Regions from separate parts of the Homo sapiens genome. Here all the other regions are linked to region 3. The links come from fine-mapping of genetic effects on gene expression. A gene starts in region 3. Each other region holds a variant in brackets. All regions are shown on one strand. Distances are between the middles of the regions.

Region 1 (6,215 bases), 54 kb before region 3:
AATGCAAGGGGCGTGGTTTTGGTTTTTCTCCAAGACCTGGAGACATCGACCCCCATCGCCTTCTGAAGAGAGAGGGAGGGCGGGCACTGGGGGTCAGGAGAGTCTCCAGCAGGGGAGGGGAATTGTTTGGACTATTGTTCTTCAGGATTGGAATAAAACAATCTTATTTTGGTTTCCGTGATGAGTTCTTGGCTTCTGGGGTTGGTTGGGAGTCCCAGATCCAGGGAACAGTTGAGATGGTCCAGCGTTCCTTCATTCTTTCTACCGACAAGGCCTCCTGGGGCCAGATGGATAGAGGAGCCACAATGAATTCATCTCCATAGCAACTCAAGCTTCCTCCTCCATCATCTGGACCAGTGCGTCCCAGTGGCAACTTCTTGACATGAGTCGATTCTACCTTCAAATGACTGACTCATGCCAAATGTCCTGGCCACAGAATGGGCCTGTGACCCAGTCCTGGTCAACGAGTCTGCTCAGGTTGAGGTGGGAGGCTTTTTTATTTTTATATTTTTGTAGAAACAGGGTCTTGCTATGTTACTCAGGCTGGTCTTGGACTCCTCGGCTTAAGCAATCCTCCTGCCACAGCCTCCCAAAGTGCTGGGATTACAGGTGTGAGCCACTGTGCTCAGAACTAGGAAGCTTTTTTTTTTTTTTTTTTGAGTCTTGCTCTGTTACCCAGGCTGGAATGCAATGGCACGTTCCCGGCTCACTGCAACCTCCACCTCCCAGGTTCAAGTGATTTTCATACCTCAGTCACCTGAGTAGCTGGGATTACAGGTGTGCGCCATCACACCTGGCAAATTTTTGTATTTTTAGTAGAGACGGGGTTTCACCATGTTGGCCAGGCTGGTCTCAAACTCCTGACCTCAGGTGACCTGCTCGCCTCAGCCTCCTAAAGTGCTGGGATCACAAGCGTAAGCCACTGCGCCCGGCCTAGGAGGCTTCTAATAAAGATTCTATCACTCCTAAGAAGGCCTAGAGACATGATCAGGCCTAGACCTGCTGATGATTACCTTGGTATGGTGTGATAATGAAGTCCACACTGAGGATGACAGAGCTGAGATGAAGAAAATCTGGATCTTTGCTTGGCTCAGTTGAGTCTCTCGAGTCTGCTCTACCATGGGGCTTCTTAAGTAAAATATATCCTTTTTTGTTAGAGACAGTGTCTCGCTCTGGCCCAGGCTGGAGTGCAGTGGTGCAAACATAGCTCACTGCAGCCTTCCAGCTCTTGGGCCCAAGGGATCCTCCAGCTCAGCCTCCTGAGTAGCTAGGACTATAGGCTCGTGCTACCACCTAGCTAATTTCTTTTTCTTTTCTTTTCTTTTCTTTTTTTTAACTTTTTGTAAAGATGAGGTCTCTTGCTACGTTACTTGGGCTGTTCTCAAACTCCTGGCCTCAAGCGATGCCCCTGCTTCAGCCTCCCAAAGTGCTAGAATTACAGATGTGGGCCATTGCACCTGGCCAATCAAAGATACCCTAATGATTTAGGGAAGTTTGAGTTGGGGTTTCTGTTGTCGCAACTGATGAAGGGGATTTAATTCTATTATAGGTGACAAAGTCCAGGTTGAAGTAGCTCAGCATTTTTCAAACTTTAGCGTGGACGTGAGTCACGTGGGCACCTTCTTAAAATACAGAGTCTGACTCAGTAGGTCTAAGATAGGGCCCAACATTCTAGCAAGCTCTCCGATGATGTGGCTGTGCTGGGTTGTGGAGCACACTTTGAGTAGCAATGAAGGAACTTGAGATAAAAGACAATTCAGGCCGGGTGTGGTGGCTCACACCTGTAATTCCAGCACTTTGGGAGGCTGAGGTAGGTGGATCACTTAAGGCCAGGAGTTCAAGACCAGCCTGGCCAGCAAGGCAAAATCCTGTCTCTACTAAAAATACAAAAATTAGCCAGATGTGGTGGCGGGTGCCTGTAGTCCCAGCTACTTGGGAGGCTGAAGCATGAGAATTGCTTGAACCCAAGAGGCGCAGGTTGCAGTGAGCCAAGATCGTGCCACTGCACTCCAGCCTGG[G/A]TGACAGAGCGAGACTCTGTCAAAAAAAAAAAAAAAGAAAAAAAATGATTCAGTGGTTCAAGTCATGCGAAGTCAAAGGCTTTGATGGCAGCTGACTGCAGGGGCTCAAACAATGTCAGGTTTCCCCTCTCTCGCCTGCTTTTCGTGCGATGGATTTCTTCAAAAGACAGCTCTCTCCTGAGAAAGGGGGGGACTAGAAGTTCCCATATCACACCCTCCTATCTTGATCCAAAAATACCATTCTATCAGCATTCGTATATTAAGTCTCAAGGAAGCAGCAGGTTGGATTTATGGAGGTTATCAGTTATCCATGGCTACATAAATGCTGTGTTAACAACTATAAAACTTCCTAAGTATATAACAATAAACATGTATTTGGAATCAACCTAAATGCCCATCAATAATCATAAGCTAGATAAAGAAAATATGGTACATATACACCATGGAATACTATAGAGCCATTAAACAACTAGATCATGTTCTTTGCAGGGACATGGATGGAGCTGGAGGTCATTATCCTTAATGAACTAACACAGGAACAGAAAACCAAATACTGCATGCTCTCACTTATAAGTGGGAGCTAAATGATGAGAAGAAATGACACAGAGAGAGGGGCAACACACATGGAGACCTACTAGGGGGTGGAGGATGGGAGGAGGGAGAGGATCGGGAAAAATAACTAATGGGTACTAGGCTTAATACCTGGGTGACAAAATAATCTGTACAACAAACCCCCATGATAAAAGTTTACCTATACAACAAACCTGCACATGTACCCCTGACTTTAAAAGTTAAAACAATAATAAAAATGAACACGTATTGCTTATGAGTCTTGGGTCACCTGAGGGGTTGGCTAGACCCTTGCTTTTCAGTGTGGTGCATGCAACAGTGTCATGAACATTCCCTAGGAGCTTGTTAGAAATGCAGATTCTCGGCTGGGCACGGTGGCTCACACCTGTAATCCCAGCACTTTGGGAGGCTGAGGTGGGCGGATCACCTGAGGTCAGGAGATCGAGACCATGCTGGCCAACATGGTGAAACCCTGCCTCTACTAAAAATACAAAAATTAGCTGGGCGTGGTGGCGCACCTGTAGTCCCAGCTACTCGGGAGGCTGAGGCAGGAGAATCTCTTGAACCCAGGAGGCGGAGGTTGCAGTGAGCCGAGATCGCTCCACTGCACTCCAGCCTGTGCGACAAAGTAAAACTCCATCTCAAGAAAAAGAAAGAAAGAAAAAAGAAAGAAATGCAGATTCTCAAACCCATTCCAAAACTACAGAATCAGAATCTCATTCTAACAAGATCCTAGTATGCATGTTATACTTTGAAAAGCAAAGCAACTGATCATAAACCTACAATTATCGGAAATAGGCTTATTTAAAAAAAATGAAAGCAGCTAATCTTGATAAAGTAGCTGATCTTCGTTGGGCTTGCCCACATATCGGGAGTCATCTGGCTTTTGGGTGAACTAAAAAGGCCTTGGCAGGGCTTGGTGGCTCATGTCTGAAATCCCAGCACTTTGGGGGGCCAAAGTGGGAGGACCGCTTGAGCCCAGGAGTTCAAGACGAACCTGGGCAACATAGGAAGACCCCGTTTCTACAAAAATAGAAACAAAATTAGCCTGGTATGATGGTGCACGTCTGTGATCTCAGCTACTCAAGAGGCTAAGGTGGGAGGATCTCCTGAGCCTGGGAGGTCGAAGCTGCAGTGAGCCATGATTGTTCCACTGCACTCCAGCCTGGGTGACAGAGTGAGACTCTGTCTCAAAAAATGCCTTGGCCGGGAGGACTAGGGTAACTCGTTCAGCACGTAGACCCCTCCAGTACAACCCTATGAAACTTCCCTGCAGCCCCTGCCTTTGCAGACAGCTCTTCGTCTGCTGTGCTGCCCATTGCTTTCTTGCAATGTACTATCTGTCTAATAAATCTGCCTTTCTTTCCCTACGACTGTCTTGATAAATGCCTTTACCTCCCATGATACTGGCCCCAGCTAGTCACACCCGTGATGCCCATCTCTTTTTTTTTTTTGAGATGGAGTCTCGCTCTGTCGCCCAGGCTGGAATGCAGCAGCACGATCTCGGCTCTCTGCAAGCTCTGCCTCCCGGGTTCACGCCATTCTCCTGCCTCAGCCTCCCGAGTAGCTGGGACTACAGGTGGCCGGCACCACACCCGGCTAATTTTTTCTATTTTTTAGTAGAGACGGGGTTTCACCGTGTTAGCCAGGATGGTCTCGATCTCCTGACCTCATGATTCGCCCACCTCGGCCTCCCAAAGTGCTGGGATTACAGGCGTGAGCCACTGCGCCCGGAGATGCCCATCTCTTAAAATAAAAAATAAAAAAAAAAAAAGAAAGAGAGAAAGGAAAGGAGGCAGGAGGGATCCTGGGAAGGCAAACAACAGCTATTGAGCGCAAACCAAATCCAAAACTTCTCCACTTGCCTGTTTTATCATTAGATTCTTAGATGTGGGCTATCTGGTTAGTGACGGGAAGCTGAATTAATTCATTAATTGATTCACCAAATAACACACAGAACCCTGGGGTGGAAAAGAGCTCAGCCCATAAGGTAAAGAGAAGATGGGCCAGTGTAGATGGGTCAGAGTGTGAAAGAGGGAGAGATTTGGACAGTGAAATCCGCAAGCCCTTAAAGATAGAAGATGAGGTGAGTCTTTATCCTGGGAGGTATGGGAAGCCTTCAAAAGGTTTTAAACAGAGAGTGGCTTGATTGGATGTACATTAGAATAACCACCTCCCCTACCCCAGAAGCTTTACTGTGACAAATGGATTGGATGAGTCCAGACCAGGAAGAGACGTATGTGACCATAAACAAACAAATAAAAATAAATTTTAAAAAACAGGCAGAAGGATCTTCACAGAACTGGACCTTGAAGAATGTGTTTGCCAGGAAAAGAGAATGAAGAAGTACGTTCCTATTGGAGGGAACTGCACGTATTACAGTATTTGGCCCTTCAGGAAGGCAAGAGGAAACTAAAGGTTAGTAAACCTTAACCCTCTATATGCCCCACATATATAGCTCACAGTGTTAAATCAAGTTTAGCCTAAAGCTGCCTCCTTACATATTTTAAGTTCGGCCTGAAGGTTTTTCTGTACGTCGTGAACTATAACAAGTGGAGGTGTAAACAGAAGGTGGCCTACGCTTGTGCCAATCACCGAGTTTTGGGCAATCAAATGTAGCCAACTGTTCGAACTGTGTACAGCAAACGCCGAGCTGTAATCAATCCAGCTGTTTCTGTACCTCACTTACGTTTTCTGTATGTCACTTTCCTTTTTCTGTCCATAAATCTTCCACCACATGGCTGTGCTGGAGTTTCAGCCTACTCTGGCCCGAGGCTACCTGATTCGTGGATCCTTCATTGCTCAATTAAACTCTATTTATTTATTTATTTAGAGATGGAGTCTCGCTCTGTTGCACAGGCTGGAGCACAGTGGTGCGATCTCAGCTCACTACAACCTCCACCTTCTGCGTTCAAGCAATTCTTGTGCCTCAGCCTCCCGAGTAGCTGGGACTACAGGTGCCCACCACCATGCCTAGCTAATTTTTGTATTTGTAGTAGAGACAGGGTTTTGCCATGTTGACCAGGCTGGTCTCAAGCTCCTGACTTGAAGCCATCCGCCCTCCTCGGCCTCCCAAAGTGCTGGGATTACAGGCATGAACCACAGTGCCTAGCCAATTAAACTTCTTTAAATTTAATTCGTCTGAAGTTTTTCTTTTATCACAAGTCACATCAATCCCTCGGGCCCCTGCTCAAATGCCACCTCTTCCTGAAAGCCATCCCTAAGTAGTCTCTCTAAAGAGCCATCCCTGCCCCTTTCTTTGCTTTATCCTTCACAGCACTTATCACTACCTGAAATTATGCCACACAGCTATTTACCACTTTGGCATTGTGATTAAGCTTATCAAGTATGAAGCCAGACTGCCTGGGTTCAAATCCCAGCTCCACTACTTCCTTGTCATGTGACCTTCCAGCCTATGTTACAGTTGAGGGGTCATAATAGTACCTGTCTATAGGGCTTTGTGAGGATGAATGAATTAGTGTGTGTACCAGTGTTCTAACATCGCCTGCATTTCCATTTTTCCCAAAGCAGCCCAGTTACTTATTAACATACTGCTTTTTCCAGTGACACGTGTTCACAGTTATTAAGTCGATCTCCCGCCAAAATAGAAGCTCTATTTTGTTTTCC
Region 2 (5,000 bases), 22 kb before region 3:
CCCATCAGAGAGAAGCTGGGGCTTTCCAGGACAGCATAGAAAGGCTCCACCCGGGCTGGATGCTCCAGGACCATCCCTTCATTCTTAAAATGGGCAACGAGAAACCAGGAGACGTCCACCTCACCTGCTGCAGGAGAACCACAACAGCAGTGAGACGGCACGCACCCCAGCGGCCCCCACAGCCTCCGCTCACCCCACATTACCTTGGAGGGAGATGAAGTGGGGGAGGTGGATTTCGGCGACAGCCTCCTCTGGCTCTGCAGTGACATCAAACAAGGGGCCGCCCACCAGCCACTGTTCATGGTGCTGCAGGTCCAGGGCCAGGTGCTGACTCCAGGAACCAAACGCAATCGTCACTGTGACCTCATCCCTTACCAGGAAGCCGAGGCCTGTGGCTGACCACAGATACCAGCCAGCAGTGGGGAACCAAACGCTGAAAGGAGCCAGAGTGATGTCATGACGGGAGAACCCCAGGACTTGGATTTAAGCAGCGATGTGCAGAGGGAGGTGGGATTTGAAGTGAGGCAAGGTTCAGGACCCATCTGCGACTTTCACTACATTAGAAAACGCTGGGGAGTTCATTAACCTCTCTGGGCCCCAATTTCTCTGCATTCTATATATGTTGAAATTAAAATACCAACTTCACAGTGCATGAAATAAACATATTATTGATGAAATTTTAGCTATCATAAGGGATGGAACCGATACGCTTCCTTTTGTATTTATATTTTTATTTATTTATTTATTTTGAGACAAAGTCTCGCTCTGTCTCCTAGGCTGCAGTGCAGTGGCGAGATCTCATCTCACTGCAACCTCTGCCCCCTGGGTTCAAGAGATTCTCCTTTCTCAGCCTCCTGATTAGCTGGGACTACACGCGGGTGCCACCACGCCTGACTAATTTTTGTATTTTTAGTAGAGACAGGGTTTCGTCATGTTGGCCAGGCTGGTCTCGAACTCCTGACCTTGTGATCCGCCCTCCTCCACCTCCCAAAGTGCCGAGATTACAGGCCTGAGCCACCACGCCTGGCCTACACACTTCCTTTATATCAGAGTGGTTTTCAAATCATCAGCATCTTCCATTCTTACCTGTATCTGTTTGTGCTCTTATCAATCAACTCAACATCCACATTTCCTTCAGGCCCCAGAAACTGACGATTTTTATAATCTTCTTCGATCTCAAAACAGACTTTAGAAGCATAAGAGGAAACTATTTGATTCTCTTCTGAGCAAATGTCTCCTGAAAAGAAAATACTAGACATGTAAGAGGTAAAGGGTTGGAAGAGGCATGGCCTGAAGGACTCCTGGAGGCTGAATTGCACAGGTGCTGTTGGGATACAGATATCGAATGAGAGCTGAGAGTGACCAGAATATGCAGTTTCGCTTCTTTGAATCCAGACAAAGAAAGGCACAAGAATGTTCCTTGTCATGACTAAACGTATACACCAAATTCCATAAGACTTTCTGGGAAGCCAGGCTGGACAGCTTTGGTGGGAGGCACCATTTGCTGAGGACTGGAACCAATGCACCTACATTTCTACTGGTCCGAAATAGCAGAAGACACTTTCTGCTGGTGAGGAAAGTCCAGGTCAGAAAAGTATCGAACTCCAAAGATGCAGAGGCGAAAGAGCGTGCATCCTTCCTAGGCCCTGCTGCTGTCCCCAGCCACCAGGACCACCCACTGACTCCCCTGAGCATTTCCATGCCCCAGCAGTGACAGGCTTACATGTCCCCATTTAAACTGCACAGTGCACTGTGGCAAAGGTAAGGGAAAGCACTCCTGATCTGCACAAAAGACTCTAAATTGTCTTCTTCACATAAAATCACAGAACATTTCCATCAATCCACACGCCCTTCACTCCTCTCCCTATTAGCCCATTACCTGAATCTTGTCCCTCTGAAGATTCCTGCTCTTCTGATACACTGGAGGTTGGGATCCCCATGTTACAAAAAGATGAAAAACATCAAGAATCAGTTGATGAAGATGAAGACGATGTTATTGAAAACTAGAGCTGCACTGTCCCGTAGAGTAGCCGCTACCCGGATATGCTATTTAAATTTGTATGAATTAAACTTAGGTAAACTTTAGTTTCTCAGTTGCACTATCCATATTTCAAGTGCTCAACAGCTACATATCACTCACGGCTATAACACTGTGTAGCAGAGAATGGAACACTCCCGTCATCACAGAAAGTTCTCTTAGACTGGGCGGATCTAGACTATCAAGAAATAGAAGACATTTTGAATGAAGATATTTTTATCCACATTTATAAATAATAGAGATAACACACTCCCTTGAGCCAAATGTGTCTTGACATCTCTCCTTCTTCTCTTTGTATTATGCCCACGTTCAATGTGGACACAGCCAGATTCTCTGGCTTAAATTGATTGCTCCGATTGGTATCATACGATGTCGGAATCAAAGACTGAAGCAGTAATTCACCAATGCGTAAAATGTATGCATTTATATTCCAAGGTAATTCCAAACTTGACCACACCTGGGAAGCTTTAAAAACCACCCAATACCAGGTCACAGCCCACATCAATTGAATCAGAAGTCTGGAGGTGGCACCAAAGCATCGGCGCTTTCAAAGCCTCACAGGTGATTCCAATATTAGCCAATATGGGTTCTATGACATACAGCGTGAGCCAATGGTTCGTCATGCCTCTGGAGAGAAACCTGCCCTAACACAGGTGATACCTTCTGGAGCAAGGCAACCAACTCCATCAAATTCTCTGCCTTTGATCCATTCCTTGAGATATCTGTTTATTTCGACGTGAAAGAGACCAGCAGAGAAACTGACACGTGGATTAGGTTTAAAAAGAACAGGTACCTAGAGAAGTGGGATGAAGAGAAAGGCTTTACAGCGCTTTTCTCGGAAGGATTCTGTGGGCAAGCCAAGCATGGAGAGACCCCTGGGCTGACATCCTAAGACTGGTTGCTGTCTGCGGCTACACATTTTGCTATGGATTCGGGTAGCTACAGGCAAAGCAGCAAGAGTAAACATGCCATTTTATATTCTCTTTCCTGGTGCATGTGCATGCTGGAGTCTGCCTGCTGAGGAGGGGTTTAGAAAGTGGGAGGAACCCAGCG[C/T]TGAACTGCAGACAGCGCATCCCAGATCATGAGAGCTGACGGTTCCATTTTCAGGGCTTTTGCAACCAAGTTGTTCAACACAACCATTAGTCTAAATTAAATGATACAAGCTAACATTTAAATAAATCATATTAAAAACAAAAGTAATACATATTAAAACATACCAATTTCCAGTCATTTTTCTACACTTTTCAGCAGTCTATGCCCTTGAGGTTATTTATGTCTCTTGTATCTGTGTGGTGAAAGCAGGATGACAGACTTCTGCATGTGTTCTTTCAACTCCCTCATCAGGGGCTTCACGTTGGTAGTTTGAAATCTGCCATGATGGGGATATTCAACCCTTGGAAATTGGCATACCCTACAAATAGACGCATTCTCCCCTCCCCGGTGTTAAACCTCAGGACCCCACTGTGGCCTTCAGCCTCATCATCAGCCAGTTTCCTAGAGAATTAGGTTGGTTTTATGTATTGAGTAACAGCTTAACCAATAACCCACTGGTCTTCGATTGCATTGCTCATTGCCTTTTTGTGTATAGGTTCTCTAGACACCTCCATGGAAGAAAACCTCATTGCTTAAGGTTTGTTTCAAAAATTTCTGGATTCATTGCTAGTATTGCATAAGCTCATTCATTCTCCCCTGAGTTCGATGAAAAACACCCAAATTCCTCTAATTCTCATGTTCCTCTGTGATATTGAGACACAGCGTCCAATAGTTTTCCAACGGAATAGCTTTTCTTACCTGGGAATGTCCCCCCCAGATAGTTGACACTCAGGAACAGCACGGAACAATAATGGCTCTGCCTCTGTCTCATCATCTTCTTGGAAAAAATGTGAGATGTCACAAAGGGTCTCAGAAACACAGGGTAGCTCCCTGTATACCCTGGAAAACAACAACAGAATTTTTACTATGAATATAAGGTAGGTGCCTGATGATAGCATAGGCTGTGCAGGAAGATTTTATGTTAATAGCCATAGACTCAATATTTTATCTTAGGGAAGTCATTCCTCAGGCCCCTACGACTCCATCTCACCTCTCAGACTCCCATGACTCTTTCTTACATCTCATTATGTTAAATTTAACTGGCTCTCTGTTTCCCACTATATGCTGCTCTTTCCATCCTAGGAAGCAGACGTCAGTCAGTTCTCAACATCTAGCATTTGCCACAAACATTGGTTTCATAATAGGTCAACAAGTATGTTGACCTATATAACCTTGCTAAGAATTTTAGGGAAAGGATGAGATTCCTAATTTGTAGTCTCCCTTCATCCATAATTGGTGCCCGAGAGAATAGGACCCTAAAATGATTGGGATTGCAGGGCATTAGTGAGATTGGGCATGTTTTATAAGAACCCATGGAACAGTTATCTCCTCTTCTCCCTTCTGCCTGCAAATGGTGAGAGGGGTTGCATAAAGCAACAAAAATGCTCACAGAAAAAGAAAATTATGGATATTGTACACACTTTCTTTTCCCATCAAGGATCCTTATTCAGATATGGAACATGAGAGTCCTATGCTAGATCCTTTTCTCTTCTTCATTTTTGAAGGCTTGGTGCTGTCCTCCTATGGCTGGCAGGAATCAAGATTGAGGTTAGGAGTGATGGAGTGTCCTTTATGCCAAGATATTCAATGGCCAATATGACAGCCACTAGCCACACCTGCCTATTTACATTTAGTTTTAAATTGTTAAATGTGAAAATCAGTTCCTCCTTTGAAGTAGCCATATTTCAAGTGCTCAAAAGCCACACGTGGCTCTTGCCTGCCACCATGTAAGACATGCCTTTGCTCCTCCTTTGACTTCTGCCATGATGGTGAGGCCTCCCCAGCCACGTGAAACTAAAAGAATTTTTCTGGGTAATGGACATAGGCATAGGACGTCTGGCAACAAAATCTGCTTTGAAGAGGACTCCAG
Region 3 (10,650 bases):
GAAGTAAGTGTAGTCGTGTTTTTTCCTACTCACATTGAAGATGGCCCAGATGCTTGCACTAACCGCGTTTACCGCCCACAGCCATCATGGCGACCGGAAGTCCTGAGAGCTTGTTTCCCTCGAATCTCAGACAGCCCTCCTTCTCTATGAACATTATTTCAAAAGAAGTTGAGAACTAGAGAAACCGAAGCTTAAGGGGATTCTCCCATTTGGCCTGTCCTCCCCTAAAGTCACCACCTGCTGCGTTTCTGCAGCGCTTACCATGTGAGTTTCAGGAGCCCCAGGGTGCAGGAAGGAGGAGCGGAGGCTTGTTGCTTGGACACTGCCAGGCTGCTCTGTGTTCTGTTCCTCTTGGTCACTTGAGAAGAAAGGGAGAAGTTCCTATGAGGCTGTCGGAAAGGGAAATGGGGCCCTCCGCTTGTTGAAAACAAAACAAAACCCTCAGGAAGCTTTGCATCCTGTTAGTCATAGCTTAAATTTATGACTTCAATGACTTGGCTGGGACAGTCTTAATCTCTCCATACTCAAGTTGTTTTAATTTCTGTAATAATAATTTTTATACCAATGTTTGTGTTGTTAATACTAATAATTTTACATTGTAACTGTAATCCTTTAATTATTACAAGTGTTAACCTAAATAACAAACATATGAAAGCTTCCTAAAGGAAACAGTGTTTATTTGGGAATAGAGCATTGCAATTGGGAATAGATATGCCATATTAAACTATGTATATATTCAGGAAGATAAAGGAAGACAGAAATGGGGAGGATTGCATATTGTTTTGACAGGATTTTCCTTGGCCACAGGATCAGGCACAAAGGTGACATTAGTCTGAGGTTGGACAGGCAGTTGCTGGGCAGCATTCCTTGCAGAAATATTTTTTGTTTAAGGTTGCAATGACCTTTATGCAAGGTTGTGGGTTTTGTAGAGTCTTTTTCATTTTCAAGCATACAAGGATAAGACCCCCCCTCTTCATGGCTTTCCTGGCTTTATTTGTCAGGGTCATCTTAACATTAGTGGCTCCATTTTGTTCTGACAACTTTCAGATTTCTCCTTGTGATCAAGAACTTTCTCTAAAAGCATTATTGATCAATCATTCTGTAATTAAGATTTGATGTCCCCTGATGCCAGCATGGACCTCTCCCAGTTTGCTGGTCTCATCCCATGTTGTGGGGAGTGACTGGTGACTAGGAATCGATGTCAAAAGCACATTTGAGCAACAAAAGAGATTTGAAGGATGTGGCTCTCAGGCTAAGTCTCCCTGGAGTCCATTAGTAAGTTCAATTTTGTCTGTTCTACAGTCTTTTGCTATCCCTTTAAAGTGCTGATTCAGTATTATTTTGTTAGGAGCTGCACCTCTGAAAAAATTTAACAAGTAACACATACAAAGTTTAAAAAGGAGAAATACAAAGTAAGGGGAAATACAAATTAAGAGCAATATGAGATTTTCAGTTTGCATATGGTTTTGAGCCATAAACCTAGGTTTAAAGACAACTAATTGAAGAACTCAAACAGTTATTCGAGACAGCAGGGAGTTAGGTGAGACCTGGGGTAACCACATGGCCTGCTTTCTTATTTTGTGTATAGGAGCCTCAACTTTTCTCAGAGGAATTTATTCAGGTATAGCATGTCGTATTAGCAACATCACAGACAATTTCTTGCTTAACCAATGGATACTAAAGAATTTTGTAGGTTGGGTTCTGTTAAGTTATAAGCAGAAGGAATTGATCATAAAATTTAAGTTACACCATTATTCTGCTAAGTAGAAAAGGTCGAATTAAGTGAGATGAAAGTCTCATTATGATATAGAGTCTTGTTTCAGCATCTTGCAGAAAGTTATACAGTGTGAAAACACCAACTTTTTCTCCTGGTTTGTAGTGTGAACGTCTCTGGTTATGATATTGGGCAGTTTGGTAAACTATTGTGTGATCCGCATATCAGCCTTGAGGTTTGTTCCCTCTTTCATTTTCCTCTGGATCACCAACATGCTAATCTACGTTCACATCACTGAAACCGTAGAGGCCAATACCAATTTCACCATTTCTGGTCCTGGATATTTGCAAGACTGTTGTCAAACTAGGCCATACATACAATAATTTAATATACATTTGGGGCTTGGATTATATTTCTGTTAAATTGCACTGCTCTATGGGACTTATTTTATTCATTCCACAAATATATTTTGCACATGTTCCTTATTCTTGGTACTATTTAATGGATTTGGCATACATCCGTGATCTAAACAGATAAAACTCCCCCAAGGATCATTTATAAATGTCATGGTGATTCGCCATGTCCTGTTTGTGTTCCTCATGGTCTGGACCAGCATCAACATGGCCAGTCTCCTCTGCAGACACCGGCGGAGAGCCCAGCGTCTGCACAGCCCTAGCCTCTCTTCCCAGCCATCTCCTGAACACAGAGCCACCCATACCATCCTCCTGCTGCTTGGTTGCTTTGTGTGCTTTTATTGCTCAAACAACTTCATCACTCTTTATTTCTTTTATAAATCTGAGAAAAAATCAAGACTAGAGATGATCACTGGAATTATTTCATCATGCTACCCAACCATCTGCCCTTTTGTGCTAATAAAAAATAATAAAATTATTTCCTAATTTACCTCTTCCTCTCTAAGACAAGAATGATCAGCTCTCAGGGAGCATTCAATGGCTGATCTCAAACCCCATACTTTCTTCTGCAGCTGGGAAGTCTCCATGATGACTTTTGTGGAGAAAAAGTCATGCAGTTATTGAGCAATTGAATTAGGGCTAGTTTGAATTGAGGTGTATCATAAATTTAAAAAGCATTCAGGTTTTGAAGTCAATATAAATAACAGTATATAAATATTATCTTAATAACTTTCACATTGCTGACAAGTTTAAATTATGACATTTTGGGTAAAACGTATGTATATGTTTTGTTATGTTTACATATATATGCATATTTAAATAAAATACATATACACAAATATGTAAGTAAAACATATGTAAGAATATATATAATATATATAATTTTTTTTTTTTGAGACAGAGTCTTGCTCTGTCACCCAGGCTGGAGTATGCAGTGGTGTGATCTCAGCTCACTGCGGCCCCCACCTCCTGGATTCAAGCAATCCTCCCACTTCAGCCTTCCGAGTAGCTAGGATTATAGGTGTGCACCACCATGCCTGGCTAATTTTTTTGTATTTTTTAGTAGAGACAGAGTTTCCCCACGTTGGCCAGGCTGGTCTAGAACTCCTGACCTCAAGTGAACCGCCTGTGTCAGCCTCCAAAAGTGCTAGGATTGTAGGTGTGAGCCACCGCACTGGCCTTATCAGTATATACACACACACACACACACACACACACACATATGTGTATACATATACAACTACATAGGTATTTTTAAACTAACTGTATCTGCTTGTTTTTGCTTTTTTAAATGCAGTTGCTAGAAAATTTAATATACATTTGGGGCTTGGATTATATTTCTGTTAAACTGCACTGCTCTATGGCACTTCTTGTATTCATTCCACAAATACATTTTGCACATGTTCCTTATTCTTGGTACTATTTAATGGGTTGGACATACATCCATGATCTAAACAGATAAAACATAATAGCACAAGAGATTATACAGAATGTTTGTGGTACAGGAAAACGTATATGTACACATGATAGGAGCTAAAAAGAATAGGACTGGTTAAGAGAATGTGGTGTGTGAGAGTACAGGTGCAGGGAGCTGCAGTGACTGGGATTACAGGTATGCATCACCATGCCTGGCTAATTTTTGTATTTTTGTAGAGACGGGGTTTCACCAATTTGGCCAGGCTGGTCTCGAACTCCTGGCCTCACGTGATCCACCTGCCTCAGCCTCCCAAAGTGCTGTAATTACAGGTGTGAGCCACCGTGCCTGGCCAACATTTATCATTTTAAATACTCATCTGCAAAAATGTTTCCAAGTGGGGCCACTTCCCCACCCCTCATATGACAGTGGCAGTGATATACCATATACATGGTTATTAAAAAGAATCTGGAGCAACAATATGAATGTCAGACAAATTAGGCTTCAAGAGCATTTCCCTCCATCTTACAGGGGATAAACCCAAAGAAGTTATATTAAGATTCCAATAAAAGAATGCAAGATGACTATCTGTGTAAAAATGTAATCAATGGGGAGCAGGTGCACCTCCAATAATATTAGACAAAATATATTTTACCTAAACAGCATTACTAAGTATAAAGTAGATCACTTCAATAAGAATAACAATTTTAATTTTGTGTATACATATTCACACTTTCAATATGTATATAGTATACACGGGTAGAATGATAAACAGATATAGAATAATCCTCCACTCTTGTGGGAAATCTGTTCAATAGTCTTTCAGCAATTAACAGAATAACAGAGTATCAGTAAAGATATAAAAAATTGACCAAAGCAATTCATATTCTTGACTTAAGTGCCCTAGAATAACAACTCACACAGCCATTGAAGAATCCCCATCATCCTATCTCAAGCATAGAGGAAACACATAGCATACATATGTAGCCACATAGCAAACACAGAAATGACTATCAACAAAGTGGAAGAGTTTAATGCACAGATTAAGTTATCTGAATATATGTACAATGAGTTATAAATAATAAATAATTGAGCCAGGTGAAGTAGTACATGCCTGTAATCCCACCTACTTGGGAGGCTGAGGTAGGAGTTTGAGCCCAGGAGTTTGAGTCTGGTCTGGGCAGCATTGCAAGATCCCATCCCCCAAATAATAAATAAACTAACTAAGTAATCAATAATTGAATGAGAAAAGTTAGCTCATATTTCAATATGTTCAATCTTAGGATATATACTTCTAGGCAACCACTTAGTGACAAAAATTCTGTAGAAATCCATCATTGAAAGTTCATTATGTAAATAAATGTGAAGACTAGATAAGAACCACAGAACACAATGACATTGGAAAAAATGCCACAGTAATTCTTTGAAAAAAGAAATGCAGGCCTGGTGCGGTGGCTCATCCCTGTAATCCCAGCACTTTGGGAGGCCGAAGTGGGCAGATCACAAGTCAGGGGTTCGAGACCAGCCTGGCCAACATAGTGAAACCCCGTCTCTACTAAAAACACAAAAACAATTAGCTGGGTGTGGTGGTGGGCACCTGTAGTCGCAGCTACTCGGGAGGCTGAGGCAGGAGAGTGCTTTCAGAGAAACTTCTTGATCACAAGGGGAAATCTGAAAGTTGTCAGAACAAAATGGAGTCACTTATGTTAAGATAACCCTGACAAATAGAGCCAGGAAGGCCATGAAGAGAGGGCTCTTATCCTTGCATGCCTGAAGATGAAAAAGACTCTACAAAACCCACAACCTTACATAAAGGTCTTCACAACCTTAAAAAAATATATATTTCTGCAAGGAATGCTGCCCAGCAACTGCTGGTCCAACCTAGGACTAATGTCACCCTTGTTACTGATCTTTGTAGCCAAGGAAAATTCTGTTAAAACAATATGCAATCCTCCCCATTTCTGTCTTCCTTTATCTCCCTGAATATACACATAGTTTAATACGGCATGTCTATTCCCAATTGCAATGCTCTATTCCCAAATAAACATTGTTTCCGGCTGGGCGCAGTGGCTCACGCCTGTAATCCCAACACTTTGGGAGGCCAAGGCGGGCTGATCTCGAGGTCAAGAGACGGAGACCATCCTGGCCAACATGGTGAAACCCCGTCTCTACTAAAAAATAAAAAATTAGCTGGATGTGGTGGTGCACGCCTGTAGTCCCAGCTACTTGGGAGACTGAGGCACGAGAATCGCTTGAACCTGGGAGGCAGAGGTTGCAGTGAGCCAAGATCATGCCACTGTACTCCAGCCTAGCCACAGAGCGAGACTCCATCTCAAAAAGAAAAAAAAATTGTTTCCCTTAGGAAGCTTTCATATGTTTGTTAGTTAGGTTAACACTTCTAATAATTAAAGTTATACAGTTACAGTGTAAAATTATTAGTATTAACAACATAAACATTGGTATAAAAATTATTATTACAGAAATTAAAACAAATTGAGTGTGAGAGAGATTATTAAGACTGTCCAAGCCAAGTCACTGAAGTCATAAATTTAAGTTATGACAGGATGCCGAGCTTCCAGAGGGTTTTGTTTTTAACAAGGGAGGGGCCCTATTTCCCCTTCTGACACGCTCATATGAACTTCTCACTTTGTCGTACTCCTTCCTTGCTGACTAAGAGGAACAGAACACAGAGCAGCCTGGCGGTGTCCTACCAACAAGCCTCCGTTTCTCCTTCCTGTACACTAGGGCTCCTGAAACTCACCTGGTAAGCGCTCCAGAAAAGCAGCAGGTGGTGACTTTAGGGTAGGACGGGCCAAATGGGAGAATCCCCTTAGGTCGGTTTCTCTGGTTCTCAACTTCTTTTGAAATAACGCTCGCAGAGGAGGTGGGCTTTCTGAGAACTGAGGGAAGTAAGCTCTCAGGACTTCCGGTCGCCATGATGGCTGTGGGCAGTCAATGGGGTCAGTGCAAGCATCTGGGCCATCTTTAATGTGGGCAGGAAAAAAACACGATTACACTTACTTCTGCAGAGTTTATAATATCCTTGTTCATTATTTAAAATAAAATATCTAAGACATAGGTAATAGTATATTTTAAATAAAATTGAAGCAATATATGAAATTTCTCTGGAATTCATCCAGCCACTCTCAGCTGTTACCACTATCCAGAAACGTCTTAATCCGCCTGCATGATTTATGTATTTGGTTTGTATTTTAAATATCATTTTCTGTAATATTTAAAAGTTGTATTTGCTTGGTATCCTGCTATGCATTCTCATGCAATTTGATTTTTAATCAATATTACTTTTTTTTTTTTTTGAGATGAAGTCTCCGTCTGTCACCCAGGCTGGAGTGTAATGGAGCAATCTCGGCTCACTGCAACCTCTGCCTCCCAGGTTCAAGCGATTCTCTTGCCTCAGCCTCCCGAGTAGCTGGAATTATAGGTGCATGCCACCACGCTCGGCTAATTTTTTGTATTTTTAGTAAAGACGGAGTTTCACCATGTTGGTCAGGATGGTCTCCGTCTCTTGACCTCGAGATCAGCCCGCCTCGGCCTCCCAAAGTGCTGGGATTACAGGCGTGAGCCACTGTGCCCGGCCTTGGTTTCTAAATACTATTTTGAAGTATCTGTGGAGAAATGGTTACTTCGAGGGCTGGGGCAGGAATATATAAGATAACATTGGAACAAATTCTGACGCCAGAACATGAAGAAATATTTGAAAAAGGATGGGGCATATTGACTGAACACAGAAGACAAACATGCATGACCTCAGCCTAATCGTGAGAAAACATCAAAGAAATCCAAATTGATAAACATTCTGTAAAATAATTGGCCATGCTCAGCAAAAGTGTCACAATCACAAAAGACAAGGGAAGAATAAGAAACGGTCACAGCCTGGAGGAATCTAAGGACATAACAACTGAGTGCAATGTGAGATCCTCGATTCGATCTTGGAGAAGAAAGAGGACGTTAAGAGAAATATTGACAAAATTCAAATAAGGTCTGCACATTAGGTAATGGTAAGATACGTTGACATCAATTTCCTGGTTGGATACTTGTATTACATATACTATTATGTATATAATTATTATATTACAATTACATATACAGTTGTATATTATATATAATACAATAAATGTATATATATGATTATAATACAATAAATGTATATATACAGTTTTATATATAACAACTATTATACATATAATACAATTATATATATAGCTAACATCAGGATAGGCTGGTTGAGGATTTATATGAATCTTTGCTAATTTTGCATGTTTAAAATTATTTCAACATAAAAAAATTATATGGGTCATGTAGTTTTTTGTGCAGTTTAATTCTAGGCACCATAGTTTCTGTTTTAATGGGTGTATTTTCTTCTTTCAAGGAATTGGGATAGTCTGTTGTATTAAAAACCTATTCATTTTTGTACATTAAGATTCTTCTGGCCAGGCGCAATGGCTCAAGCCTATAATCCCAGCACTTGGGAACCTGAGGCAGGCAGATCACCTGAGGTCAGGAGTTCAAGACCAGCATGTCCAACATGGTGAAACCCCATCTCTACTAAAAATACAAAAAAAATTAGCCAGGCATGGTGGCACATGCCTGTAATCCCAGCTACTTGGGAGGCTGAGGAGGAGACTCACTAGAACTCAGGAAGCAGAGGTTGCAGTGAGCCAAGACTGCGCCACTGCACTCTGGCCTAAGCAACAGAGGGAGACTCCATCTCAAAAAAAAAAAAAGATTATTTCTCTAACTTACTGGTTTATCTTTTATAGCTTATTTCAGGTGATTTGTTGTGTTTGTCTATAGAGTAAAATAACATGTCTAATGAGTTATAATTTAATGTCCTTCCATTCAATCACTGTATTTCAAATTTATTCCAATATTTTGGAATAAGCTTCCAATATTTTAACTTAAATAGGGAAGGTCATACTTGGTATTTTCCTGACCTCAGCTGGAATGCCTTCATAGTGTTCACATGAACACATTTGGCCTGAGAGAGACTTATTATGCCGAGAATGTGTGTAACCCTTTTTACTTAGGAATTGTGGGTGGAGTTTTTCCCCCCGCCCAAGAATGATTGTTAATTTCCGTCCATCATTTTCCTTTGATTGTTCTTCATCTCGAAAACAAATAATAAAATAATAAAATAAATAAATAAAACTTACTGGTCTTCTCACCTATTTTCTTGCAGTGCCTTTAAGCAATGCTCTGCCAATATCTTTTTCTTAATTATTATGGAATGCATGGGACCGTTCCATGCCTGATTATATGCAGAATGTTCTTTCTACAAGTGAGTTTTTGTAGTATTTCTGTACTCTGCCATACTAGGGCATTTCTCTGTTTTCAAGGATCTCCCAACCACACCGCCTCTACCACATTTATCTCCTGCTCAGCCTCCACTCCAACTGCCCAGACCTCACAGCTCTTGTATTCAAACTCTATCGATAAATCACCGAGTATGAGGCTTTACTCACAGGAAATTACTCTTCTGGCACTTCCTGACTTCTTTATGTTTTCTCACTCTGCACTTCCTCCCTGTTCCTCCGCTATGCTTCACCCTGACTTAACACAGTTTTGTCAGCCAGTGAGAAACATGTGGATCTGTGAATTCTATCTGTCTCCTCGTTATTCTGAAAATGGAGTTTGCATGGACTTTTCCGTTCACCTTATTGCTTTCATTGATACTCAGTAATAGACAAGATAAACTGTTATTTCTCATTGCCTTGTTCATTTCAGAAGTACCAGGTAGAATTTTACAATTCTTGCCTTGATACATATTCCCAGTAATTGTTGAGTGATTTAATTGTATGTTGTCTTGATATTACTTTGGTCATATATTACATTATTTCTCATTTTTGAATATCTGGATTTACATAAATTCTGTGTAATTCAGGTTTGTATTTATCCAAGTTCTCAGAAACTACAACTGCTGTAATTGATCATAACTCTCCTAATACAGGTGTAACTAAAGTGAGAGATGCTTTTTGACTCATGAAAAAAAGAAGACTGTAGACCAAGTCTCAATAACTTCCACTTAATCCTATAGAAAGTTAGCCAAGATAATGTACACCTTCTTTAAGATTCTTATAAGGAAAAGATTCCATTTTGTTTCTTGAAATGAGGTATTGCTTTGTCGCCCAGACTGGAATGCAGCGGTGCCATCATAGCTCACTGCGACCTTAAACTCCTGGGCTCAAGGGATCCTCTCACTTCAGCCTCCCGAGTAGCTGGGACTACAGGCACAAACCACTGTGCCTGGCTTCATGAGAAAAAATTAAATATATAATGGTACTAGGTAAAATAATACTAAATAAGAAGTAATTTGAATGCATACTATATTAACTCTGGAATAACGATACTTAAGTAAAAGAAAAGTGTTCGTTACAACAAAGGGAAGCTTGTAGTTCAGAGGATAGCTAAATTAAATTTGTTGCAGGCTGTGAGAGACATAACAAACATAAACACATGAAATATGTAGATTTTTATATTTTTATTGAAAATTGGATAGAAATATTTGGTTTGTTCAGTTGGAACATGTGAGTTGATTATTATGCATATAAATAAACAGACATTCAGTGTAGGGGCCAGCCCTACAGGGTCTGTGGGTCTTTCTCCCGTTGTGCGGAGACGAGAGATCGTAGAAATAAAGACACAAGACAGAGAAATAGAAGAAAAGACAACTGGGCCCGGGGGACCACTACCACCAAGATGCGGAGACCAGCAGTGGCCCCGAATGCCTGGCTGTGCTGATATTTATTGGATACAAGGCAAAAGGGGCAGGGTAAGGAGTGTGAGTCATCTCTAATGATTGATAAGGTCACATGAGTCACGTTTCCACCGGACAGGGGGCCCCTCCCTGTTTGGCAGCCCTGGTGGAGAGAGAGAGGAGACAGCTTATGCCATTATTTCTGCATTTCAGAGACTTTTAGTACTTTTACTAATTCTGCTACTGCTATCTAGAGGGCGGAGCCAGGTGTACAGAGTGGAACATGAAAGTGAAACAGGAGCGTGACCGCTGAAGCACAGCATCACAGGGAGCCGGTTAGGCCTCCGGATAACTGCGGGCGGGCCTGACTGATGTCAGGCCTTCCACAAGAGAC

The links. PIP is the estimated chance that this variant, and not a neighbour inherited with it, causes the effect.
Region 1: its variant is the best candidate, but not a certain one, in a credible set for the expression of CARD8 in unexposed skin (GTEx, PIP 0.63).
Region 2: its variant is the best candidate, but not a certain one, in a credible set for the expression of CARD8 in whole blood (INTERVAL, PIP 0.65).

The regions. Positions count from the first base shown.
Region 1 is chr19:48,197,449-48,203,663 of GRCh38, forward strand. ZSWIM9 (zinc finger SWIM-type containing 9) reads left to right here. Exons shown (of 4, transcript NM_199341.4): 4 at 1-172. It also overlaps a transcript of CARD8 not described here. Among named protein-coding and RNA genes, the nearest start is that of ZSWIM9, 30 kb to the left of the region's middle. The variant G/A (reference allele first, on the strand shown) is at 2,019.
Region 2 is chr19:48,230,574-48,235,573 of GRCh38, forward strand. It overlaps CARD8 (caspase recruitment domain family member 8), which reads right to left. Exons shown (of 14, transcript NM_001184900.3): 6 at 3,830-3,970; 7 at 1,880-1,920; 8 at 1,087-1,237; 9 at 204-433; 10 at 1-127. Among named protein-coding and RNA genes, the nearest start is that of CARD8-AS1, 23 kb to the right of the region's middle. The variant C/T (reference allele first, on the strand shown) is at 3,092.
Region 3 is chr19:48,249,490-48,260,139 of GRCh38, forward strand. It overlaps CARD8 (caspase recruitment domain family member 8), which reads right to left and starts at 6,423. Exons shown (of 14, transcript NM_001184900.3): 1 at 6,303-6,423; 2 at 262-358; 3 at 34-144. It overlaps CARD8-AS1 (CARD8 antisense RNA 1), which reads left to right and starts at 6,186. Exons shown (of 2, transcript NR_040599.1): 1 at 6,186-6,305; 2 at 6,862-8,705. It also overlaps the pseudogene VN1R97P. RefSeq lists enhancers at 6,292-6,531, 10,446-10,645 and a silencer at 10,618-10,650.